2 linked regions of the Homo sapiens genome follow. The protein of the gene in region 1 purifies or fractionates together with the protein of each later gene. This does not show direct contact. Each region holds a gene or a part of one and is shown on either strand. Other genes may lie near its edges. The genes, in order: CENATAC and GINS1.

What was found.
Region 2: the proteins of CENATAC (region 1) and GINS1 purify together in Homo sapiens (affinity purification with mass spectrometry; 2 studies listed by BioGRID and IntAct, with this or other methods). This does not show direct contact.

What each region holds. Positions count from the first base shown.
Region 1 is NC_000011.10:119,001,016-119,008,313, reverse strand, and holds part of CENATAC (centrosomal AT-AC splicing factor), read right to left. Parts: intron 6,702-7,298; exon of another isoform or gene 6,489-6,701; intron 5,362-6,488; exon of another isoform or gene 4,721-5,361; intron 1-4,720. UniProt on the Homo sapiens protein: Component of the minor spliceosome that promotes splicing of a specific, rare minor intron subtype. Negative regulator of centrosome duplication.
Region 2 is NC_000020.11:25,445,378-25,449,066, reverse strand, and holds the end of GINS1 (DNA replication complex GINS protein PSF1), read right to left. Parts: intron 3,145-3,689; coding exon 3,076-3,144; 3' UTR 504-3,075; downstream 1-503. UniProt on the Homo sapiens protein: Required for correct functioning of the GINS complex, a complex that plays an essential role in the initiation of DNA replication, and progression of DNA replication forks.

The sequences.
Region 1 (7,298 bases):
TTTTTGCTGAAATAATGAAAAATAATAATCAATAAAAACTGAGGGAACTCAGAGGCCGGTGCCGGTGCAGGTCCTTGGTGTGCTGAGCACCAGTCCCCTGGACCCACCGTTGTTTCTTTATACTTTGTCTCTGTGTCTTATTTCTTTTCTCCGTCTCTCATCCCACCCGACTAGAAATACCCACAGGTGTGGAGGGGCAGGCCACCCCTTCAATAAGTAAAATTTAAAAACAACAAAAAAGCCACTTAGCTACTACAGTCTAGATTTGATTCCCCAGCAACAGAATATCCCACAACTCACACTGGGGTCATCCAGTCCTTTTTGTTTCAGTGTTGTCCTTTTTGGTGTATGAAACAAGGACCTGAGAAGCTGGCTCTTTGGTCTTCCTTTTCTTTTCACTGTCTATGTAAGAAACCATCTAAATCTAAAAGTGCCTCCTCCTATCTTTACCAGTCAAATCAACCAAACCTTGGAATTGCCTTGTGTGTGTATGTTTGACAATTTACAAGGTTCAAAAGTAAAAATTAGGCTGGGCACAGTGGCTCATGCCTGTAATCTCAACACTTTGGGATGCCAAAGTGGAAGGACTGCTTGAGCCCAGGAGTTTGAGACCAGCTCAGGCAACATAGTGACCCTGTCTCTACAAAAAATACAGAAATAGCCAGGTGTGATGGTGCACACTTATAGCCCTAGATACTTGGAAGGCTGGGGTGGGAGGATTGCTTGAGCCTGGGAGGTTGAGGCTGTAGTGAGCTGTCATTGTATCATGGCACTCCAGCTTGGACAACAGAGCAAGACTCCATCTCAAAATAAATAAATAAATAAATAAAAAGGCCAGATTAGGTGGTTCACATCTGTAATCCCAGCACTTTGGGAGGCCGAGGTGGGCGGATCATGAGGTCAGGAGTTTGAGACCAGCCTGACCAACATGCTGAAACCCCATCTCTATTGAAAGTACAAAAATGAGCCGGGCGTGGTGGCACGTGCCTGTAATCCCACCTACTTAGCAGGCTGAGGCAGGAGAATCACTTGAACCTGGGAGGCGGAGGTTGCAGTGAGCCAAGATCATGTCATTGCACTCCAGCCTGGGTGACAGAGCGAGACTCTCTCCAAAAAAAAGAAACGAAAAGAAAACTATATTTAGGTTGCCGGTATCTCCTGGCCACTGGCTGCCACTACAGTTCATTTATCTGGAACCTGGGCTCCTGAAGATGCAGCACTGGAGCAGAGAGATGATGTTGACAGGGTGTCTTAGTCCATTTTCACACTGTTGATAAAGACATACCCAAGACTGGGTAATTTACAAAGAAAAAGAGGTTTAATAGACTCACACAGTTCCATGTGGCCGGGGAGGCCTTATAATCACAGCAGAAGGTGAAAGGCATGTCTCATGGTGGCAGGCCAGAGAGAATGAAAACCAAGTGAAAGGGGAAACCCCTTATAAAATCATCAGATCATGTGAGACTTATTACCATGAGAACAGCATGGGGGAAAACGCCCCCATGATTCAGTTATCTCCCACTGGGTCCCTCCCACAACGTGGGAATTATGGGAGCTACAGTCAAAAAAATTTGGGTGGGGACACAGCTAAACCATATCACAGAGGTTGATGAATGACCCAGTCACATTAGAAATAGGTGGACTAAGCCAGGCGCAGTGGCTCACGCCTGTAATCCCAGTACTTTGGGAGGCCGAGGCGGGTGGATCACGAGGTCAAGAGATCGAGACCATCCTGGCCAACACGGTGAAACCCCATCTCTACTAAAAATACAAAAATTAGGCCGGGCATGGTGGCTTACGCCTGTAATCCCAGACTTTGGGAGGCCGAGGCAGGCGGATCACGAGGTCAGGAGATCAAGACCATCCTGGCTAACAAGGTGAAACCCCGTCTCTACTAAAAATACAAAAAATTAGCCAGGCATGGTGGCGGGCGCCTGTAGTCCCAGCTACTCAGGGAGGCTGAGGCAGGAGAATGGCGTGAACCCAGGAGGCGGAGCTTGCAGTGAGCCGAGATCGTACCACTGCACTCCAGCTTGGGTGACAGAACAAGACTCCATCTCAAAAAAAAAAAAAAAGGTTGGGTGTGGTGGCCTGTGCCTGTAGTCCCAGCTACTCAAGAGAATCGCTTGAACCTGGGAGGCAGAGGTTGCAGTCAACTGAGATCACGCCACTGTACTCCAGCCTGGCGACAGAGCAAGATTCCATCTCAAAAAAAAAAAAAAAAAAAAAAAAAAAAAATCCTGCCTACTCTGAAGGCCAAGGCAGGAGGATTGCTTGAGCCCTCAGGAGTTTGAGGCTGCAGTGAGCCATGATTGTACCGCTGCACTCCAGTCTGGGTGACAGAGCAAGACCCCATCTCAAAAAAAAAAAAAAAAAAGCATCTCAAATTATTTAACCAAATGGACTAAGCACATAATAATAATGGACTGTACAGACTGCCAGGTTTCTTTCCTATACTTTGTGCGATTATCACCAGGAAGTTTCTCTCTGGGTCTCATAATCCACAACACCTGAGTGTATCACATGAGTGTGCAGGACAATGAAGACACAGTGGAACACAACTAGACTTTCTGTAGACTAACCTGGAAGGCAGGTCTCTAATTTCCAAACCAGAAGTTCCTGGAAACTGAGTTCAAGGAAATAGAAGAAACTGATTAAAAAAAAAAAATTACAGTGTGGTTGAAGTCCAGAAATTTCTAGGCAGCTGGCTGGGCACAGTGGCTTGTCTGTAGTCCCAGCACTTTGGGAGGCTGAGGTGGGAGGATTGCCTGAGACCAGGAGTTTGAGACCAGAGGAAAAGAAAATGACAATGTGGAATTGTAAAAAAAAAAAATTTTTTTTTTTTTTGAGACGGGGTCTCACTCTATGTCGCCAGGCTGGAGTGCAGTGGCATGATCTCGGCTCACTGCAAGCTCCACCTCCTGGGTTCACGCCATTCTCCTGCCTCAGCCTCCCAAGTAGCTGGGACTACACACACCCACCACCTCGTCTGGGTAATTTTTTGTATATTTAGTAGAGACGGGGTTTCACCGTGTTAGCCAGGATGGTCTCGATCTCCTGACCTCGTGATCTGCTGGCCTTGGCCTCCCAAAGTGCTGGGATTACAGGCATGAGCCATCGTGCCCGGCCAAAAATTTTTATTTATTTGAGGACCAGAGAGAAGTTTTGTGCTTTAGCAGACTCCTCCGTGTTTTCTTCTTTTCACCCTGTTCAAAGTTTCCAGGTATTGGCTTTTTTTTTCTTGCTGTTTTTGAGACAGGGTATTTTGCTCTGTTGCCCAGGCTAGAGTGCAGTGGTGTGATCACAGCTCACTCCTGCCTCAACCTTGTGAGCTTAAGCAATCCTCCTGCCTCAGCCTCCCCAGTAGCTAGCACTACAGGCAAATGTCACCATGCTTGGCTAATATAATTTTTTTTTTTTAGAGATGGGGTTTCACTATGTTGTTCAGGCTGGTCTTAAACTCCTGGGCTCAAATGATCCTCTGTCTCAGCCTCCAAAAGTGCTGGAATTACAGTCATGAGCCACTGCAACTGAATTGCCTTTTTTTTTTTAAAGAGACATTCTTGCTATGCTGCCCAGCTGGAGTGTAGTGGTGGGATCACAGCTCACTGCAGGTTCAACCTCCTGGGCTCAAGTGATCCCTCAGGCTCAGGTGATCCCCCTGCCTTAGCCTCCAGAGTAAGTAGGACTATAGGCTAGCCTCCAGAGTAGGTAGGACTATATGCCCAGCTAATCCAGATACCCTTTTTATTAAAAATCTGAAAATCAGGCTGGGACCAGTGGCTCACACCTGTAATTGCAGCACTTTGGGAGGACAAGGTGGGTGGATCATGAGGTCAGGAGTTCGAGACCAGCATGGCCAATATGGTGAAACCCCATCTCTACTAAAAATACAAAAATTAGCTGGGCATGGTGGCGCATGCCTATAGTCCCAGCTACTCGGGAGGCTGAGGCAGAAGAATCACTTGAACCCAGGAGGCGGAGGTTGCAGTAAGCTGAGATCGTGCCACTGCACTCCAGCCTGGGCAACAGAGCAAGACTCTGTCTCAAAAAAAAAAAATCTGAAAATCATTATGGTATGTCATCTACCCTTATTATAATGCTAAAATGATTTCTGATAAAATAGTTCCTAACTCAACTAGAAAACTATAAAGAATGAAAGAATGAGCAGAGTACTCATGATGCCTTTGAGTAAAATCGAAACATCATAGAGCGTGATCTAATTTCCAAATCAATAGGCAGTATTGTAACATTAAAGGAAAGCTATTCCAATCACTTAGAAATACTTGCTAAGTACTGCTTTTTACAGTTATGACAACTGTTTCTATGCATATGAACCAAGCAACCAAATATCTATAACCATGGAAATATCTGATTAGAAATATTTCTAATTTGGGCCGGGCTCGGTGGCTCACGCCTATAATCCCAGCACTTTGGGAGGCCAAGGCAGGCGGATCACCTGAGGTCGGGAGTTCGAGACCAGCCTGACCAATATGGTAAAACCCCATCTCTACTACAATTACAAAAATTAGCCAGGTGTGGTGGCATGCACCTGTAGTTCCAGCTACTCGGAAGGCTGAGGCAGGAGAATCGCTTGAACTCAGGAGGTGGAGGTTGCAGTGAGCCAAGATCATGCCACTCCAGCCTGGGCAACAGAACAAGACTCTGTCTCCCAAAAAAAAAAAAAAAAAAGAGAGAGAAATATTTCTAATTATTGGCCGGGTGCAGTGGCTCACGCCTGTAATCCCAGCACTTTGGGAAGCCAAGGTGGGTAGATCATTTGAGGTCAGGAGTTCGAGACCAGTTTGGCCAACATGGTGACACCCTATCTCTACGAAAAATACAAAAATCAGCCCCTTTTCACAAGATGGCACCAAAAGCTAAGAAGGAAGCTCCTGCCCCTCCTAAAGCCAAAGCAAGGCTCTGAAGGCCAAGAAGGCAGTGTTGAAAGGTGTCCACAGCCACAAAAAAAAGAAGATCCGCGTATCACTAGCCTTCTGGCGGCCCAAGACATTGCGACTCCGGAGGCAGTGCAAATATCTTAAGAGCACCCCCAGGAGAAACAAGCTTGACCACTATGCATCATCAAGTTTCCTCTGACCACTGAGTCTCCATGAAGAAGACAGAAGACACACGCACTTGTGTTCACTGTGAATGTTAAGCCACAGCACCAGAGAAGCTCTATGACACTGATGTGGCCAAGGTCAACACCCTGATTCGGCCTGATGGAGAGAAGGAACATGTTCGACTGGCTCCTGATTACAATGCTTTGGATGTTGCCAACAAAATAGGGATCATCTCAACTGAGTCCAGTTGGCTAATTCTAAATATATGTATATCTTTTCACCATTAAAAAAAAAATTATCAAGGCATGGTGGCGCATGCCTGTAATACCAGCTACTCAGGAGGCTGAGGCAGGAGAATTGCTTGAACCTGTGAGGCGGAGGTTGCAGTGAGCCGAGATCACGCAGCTGCCCTCCAGCCTGGACAACAGAGCGAGACTCCATCTTGAAAAAAAACCTGAAATATTTCTATTGGATTCTGAATACAAAATTTCGCATGGGAGAAATCTTACTTCTTATGCCTGTTACAGTATAATTCCCAAATGTACCATCAGAAAAAAAAAAAAAAACCAACAGCTTATTTTTAAAAGTATACATAGAAATCTTGTTTCTAGGCCGGGTGTGGTGGCTCATGCCTGTAATCCTAGCACTTTGGGAAGCCGAGTCAGGTGGATCACTTGAGGTCAGGAGTTCAAGACCAGCCTGGCCAACATGGTGAAACCCCATCTTTACTAAAATACAAAAATTAGTCAGGCGTAGTGGCACAAGCCTGTAATTCCACCTACTCTGGAAGCTGAGATGGGAGAACTGCTTGAACCTGGGAGGTGGAGGTTGCAGTGAGCTGAGATTGTGCCACTGCACTCCAGCCTGGGCAACAGAGTGAGACTGTCCAAAAAAAAAAAAAAAAATCTTTTTTCTATTCCTATCAACTCTAAACATTTTTACTGACCCACAAACTGGGTCACACCAACTGGTTACACTAACTGATATGTGATCAGTTTCTTTTTTTTTTTTTTTTTTTTTTTTGAGACAGAGTTTTGCTCTTGTTGCCCAGGCTGCAGTGCAATGGCATGATCTTGGCTCAGTACAATCTCTGCCTCCTGGGCTCAAGCGATTTTCCTGCCTCACCCTCCCGAGTAGCTGGGATTACAGGCACAAACCAACACGCCCAGCTATTTTTTGTATTTTTAGTAGGGATGGGGTTTCACCATGTTGACCAAGCTGGTCTCGAACTCCTGACCTCAAATGATCCTCCCACCTCGGCCTCCCAAAGTGCTGGGATTACAGGTGTCAGCCACTGAGCATGGCCATGTGATCAATTTCATTAACTTCTCTAAAAAAAAATTCGTATTTCTTTTTAGAGATGGGGTCTTGATACACTGCCCAGGATGGCCTCAAACTCCTGGGCTCAAGCTATCCTCTTACCTCAGCCTCCTGAGTAGCTAGGACTACAGGTGTGCACCACCACATCTGGCAGTTTCATTAGTTTCTTGATTATCCTTTAGGCATTCCTTTTTGAGAAAATAAGCAAATACAGTTGACTCTTGCACAGCACAAGTTTGAACTGCACGAGTTCACTTGAAAATTTTTTTGGAGATTTGCAACAATTTGAAAAAACTTGCAGATGAACCACATAGCCTAGAAATATGGAAAAAATTAAAAAGGTATGTCATGAATGCATAAAATATATGTAGATACTAGTCTTTTATGATTTACTACCATAAAATACACAAATCCAGGCTGAAACGGGAGAATCGCTTGAACCCGGGAGGCAGAGGTTGCAGTGAGCCGAGATCGCACCACTGTACTCCACCCTGGGTGACAAAGCAAAACTCCCTCTCCAAAAAAAAAAAGTTAAAATTTATCAAAACTTACACACAGAAACACAGACTGTACATGGTGACATTCGCGGTCAAGAGAAATGAAAATAAATGTAAAGATGCAATATTACATAACTGTATAAAATTATAATCCAAACTACAACTGTCACAATTTTGTAGCCACCTATTGCAGTGAACTCAAGTGTTGTATCTGCTTAAAACACAGTAATGCTGATCATCTTGTAAGCAGTTGTCTCACCAGTAAATTGCATATTACAGTAAAAGTGATCACTCATGGTTCCTGCATATTTTTCAGTAATGTCATACCATTAACCTCAAATAGTAACGTGGGACCTATAGGAGGTGCCACTAGTGATGCCTGAAGCACTCCAAAGAAGCAGAGAAAAGTCATGAC
Region 2 (3,689 bases), on another chromosome or scaffold:
TAAAGGAAAGAGATTTAATTGACAGTTCCACATGGCTGGGGAGGCCTCACAATCACAGCATAAGGCAAATGGATAGGGACCAAAGTCACGTCTTACATGGTGGCAGGCAAAAGAGCATGTCCAGGGGAACTCCCATTTATAAAACCATCAGATCTCGTGAGACTTATTGACTAACACCAGAAAAGTATGGGGAAAACTACCCCCTTGATTCAATTATTTCACCTGGCCCTGCCCTTGACACATGGGAATTATTACAGTTCAAGTTGAGATTTGGGTAGGGACACAGCCAAACCATATCACTAGGAATAGGAAGGAACTTCCTACCCCAATAAAGGGCATCTACAAACAACTTAAGAGCTAACAAACATCATAATAGTGAAAGACTGTTTTCCTTCTTAGATCAGGAACAAGATAGGGGTGTCTTTGACCACATATATTTAGTACTCTACTGGAAGTTCTAACCAATGCCATCAGGCAAGAAAAAGAAATAAAAGGCATTCAGATTAGAAAGGAAGGAGTAAAACTCTTTATTCATAGAACACATGACTGTTGATGTAATTTACAAAAACACCATGAGAACTCACAGTTTAGCAAGGCTGAAGGATACAAGTTCAACATCAATTGTATTTCTATTTACTAGCAACAAGTGGTTAGAATTTGAAATTTTAAAATACCATTTAGCATCAAAACTATGAAATGCTGACATGGTAGACCTGTACACTGAAAACTACAAAAGATTATTAAGAGAAATAGAAGACAAAACATTAATACCTAGGAAGACAGACCTTGTTTATAGGCCAGAAGACTCAATATTATTAAGATGTCAATTCTCCCAACAGTTTTATATAAATTCAATGCAATCTCAATCAAGGTGCCCAACAGGGGTTTTTGTTGTTGTTGTTGTAGAAATTGACAAATTGATCCTAATTTCTTTTTGAGATAGAGTCTCACTTTGTCACCCAGGCTGGAGTACAGTGGTGTGATCTCAGCTCACTGCAGTCTTGACCTCTGGGGTTCAAGTGATCCTCCCACCTCAGCCTGCCGTGTAACTGTGACTACAGGCATGCACCACCACACCTGGCTAATTTTTTCTATTTTTTGTAGAGACGGAGTTTTGCCATAGGCCCGGGCTGGTCTGGAACTCCTGAGCTCAAGTGATCCACCCATCTAGGCCTCCCAAAGTTCTAGGATTACAGGCATAAGCCACCACACCCTGCCTGTTCCCAAATTTCACATCAAAAGCAAAGGACTTAACATAGCCAAAACAAATCTCAAAAAGAAATGTGGTACACTGGGCCAGCACCAAGGCTCACGCCTGTAATCCCAGCACATGGGGAGGACGAGGCAAGTGTATTGCTTTAGCTCAGGAGTTCAACACAGCCTGGCCAACACGGTGAAACCCCATCTCTACAAAAAATACAAACAACAGCAAAAATATGACACATTAATACTATCTGTTTCAAGAATTATTAGAAAATTACATACACTACATACAAATATGGTATTGGCATTCAGGAGAGAAAAACAGGTCAATGGAACAAAACAGAGTCCTGAAATAAACCCACATATACATTGACAACTACTTTTTAACAAAAATGCAAAGGTGATAGAGCAAAGGGCAGTCCTTTCAAAAAATGGTAGTGAAACAGCTGGATATCTATATTCCCAAGAAAAAGTGAAGGTGGATTGACACCTTGCACCATATAAAAAATTCATTCAAAATGGATCATAGGCTGGCCGCGGTGGCCCACACTTGTAATCCCAAAACTTTGGGAGGCCAAGGTGGGTCACTTGAGGTCAGGAGTTTGAAACCAGCCTGGCCAACATGGTAAAACTCTGTCTCTACTAAAAATACAAAAATTAGCCAGGCGTGGCGGCCTGTGCCTGTAATCCCAGCTACTTGGGAGGCTGAGACAAGAGAATCACTTGAACCCAGGGGATAGAGATTGCAGTGAGCCAAGATCACGCCACTGCACCCCAGCCTGGGTGACAGAACAAGACTCCATCTCAAAACAAAGAAACAAACGAAAAAACAAAACAAAACAAAAAAAAAAACGGGTCATAGACCAAAGTATAAAGCTTAAAATTATAACACTTCTAGAAGTAAAAAGGAAAAAAAATTGTGATCTTGGGATGGGAAAAGATTTCTCGGATGCAACACCCAAAGCATAAAAGAACAAACGAATAAACTGGATTTCATCAAAATTTAAAATGTCAGCTGTTTAAAACATACCATTAAAAGACAATCAACTCTTCATGTGACTTTTCAGTCAATCTGAATCTCAGGGAAAACTGTACAAAGTTCCTTCTCTAGCCCCAATTTCACTGTCCCCTTCCAAAGTGGTGATACTGGTGATCACCCCATAGCCACAAGCCACACCAGCCACCATGGTGGAAATGTGCAAAATCCATGTGTGTCCTTCCTTCCCAAATAGCCAGATGATAAATTAGTATGTCATTAAACATTATATATACTGAAAATTTCTACAGACCATCATCTTCACTTGCATGTGATTTGAAAATGTGTATCTCAGAAATTCAGCTCTCTAGCTTGTACAATACACATGACCAGAAAACAAGACACACAGGATCTACCTTCTTCCTGTCCAGCCAAGTGACTGCTTATTTAAGAGATTCAAATGTAACCATGTTTACTTTCATTTAAAAAACACACTGTAACAACTGTAGGAATGCTGTGATTACAGATACAGCTTATTAGAAAAAGGAGTAGGGGCCGGGTGCAGTGGCTCACGCCTGTGATCTCAACACTTTGAGAAGCTAAGGTGGGAGGACTGCTTGAGGCCAGGAGTTTGAGACCAGCTTGGGCAACATAGTGAGACAGTCTCTACAAAACAAAACCAAAACCAAAAAAGAGTAGGAAGAATAGTGTACAACATTAAAAAAAGAAAGTCCTTAATAGTTAGCAAATTATACTTCTTAGCCAAGTATTCTTAGTTATCTTAAACAATGTCTATAGCTTCTAAAATCAAAGAGGGAGGTGAAGGGAGTGGTGGAGAGAGTGAGTACAGAGGAGTCCATGAGTTGAGTGAAGCCTGGAAGTGCCTCGGCGCATGGTCATGACAGGATGTGCTCCAGGACTCCTTGTCTGATCAGCTGCTCACATTTCCATCGAGGTAAAAAGTGCTGAGGGGACAAGAAGGGATGGAGAAAGAGTAAAATAAATGATTGGGAAAGAATTTGAAATTATTTCTTGTATCATTAAAAAGTAGCACTGATTAGTTTTCAAACTCCAACAAGTAAGTAGTTGAAAGTTAAACTTAAGGGGCTGGGTACGGTGGCTCATGCCTGAAATCCCAGCACTTTAGGACACCAAGGTAGGCGGATCACCTGAGGTCGGGGGTTCAAGACCAGCCTAACCAACATGGAGAAACCGCGTCTCTACTAAAAAATACAAAGTTGGCCCAGGGGCAGTGGATCACGCCTATAATCCCAGCACTTTGGGAGGCCGAGGCGGGTGGATCACGAGGTCAGGAGATCAAGACCATCCTGGCTAACACGGTGAAACCCCGTCTCTACTAAAAATGCAAAAAAATTAGCCAGGCATGGTGGCGGGCACCTGTAGTCCCAGCTACTCAGGAGGCTGAGGCAGGAGAATGGCGTGAACCCGGGAGGCAGAGCTTGCAGTGAGCCGAGACCGTGCCACTGCACTCCAGCTTGGGCAACAGAGT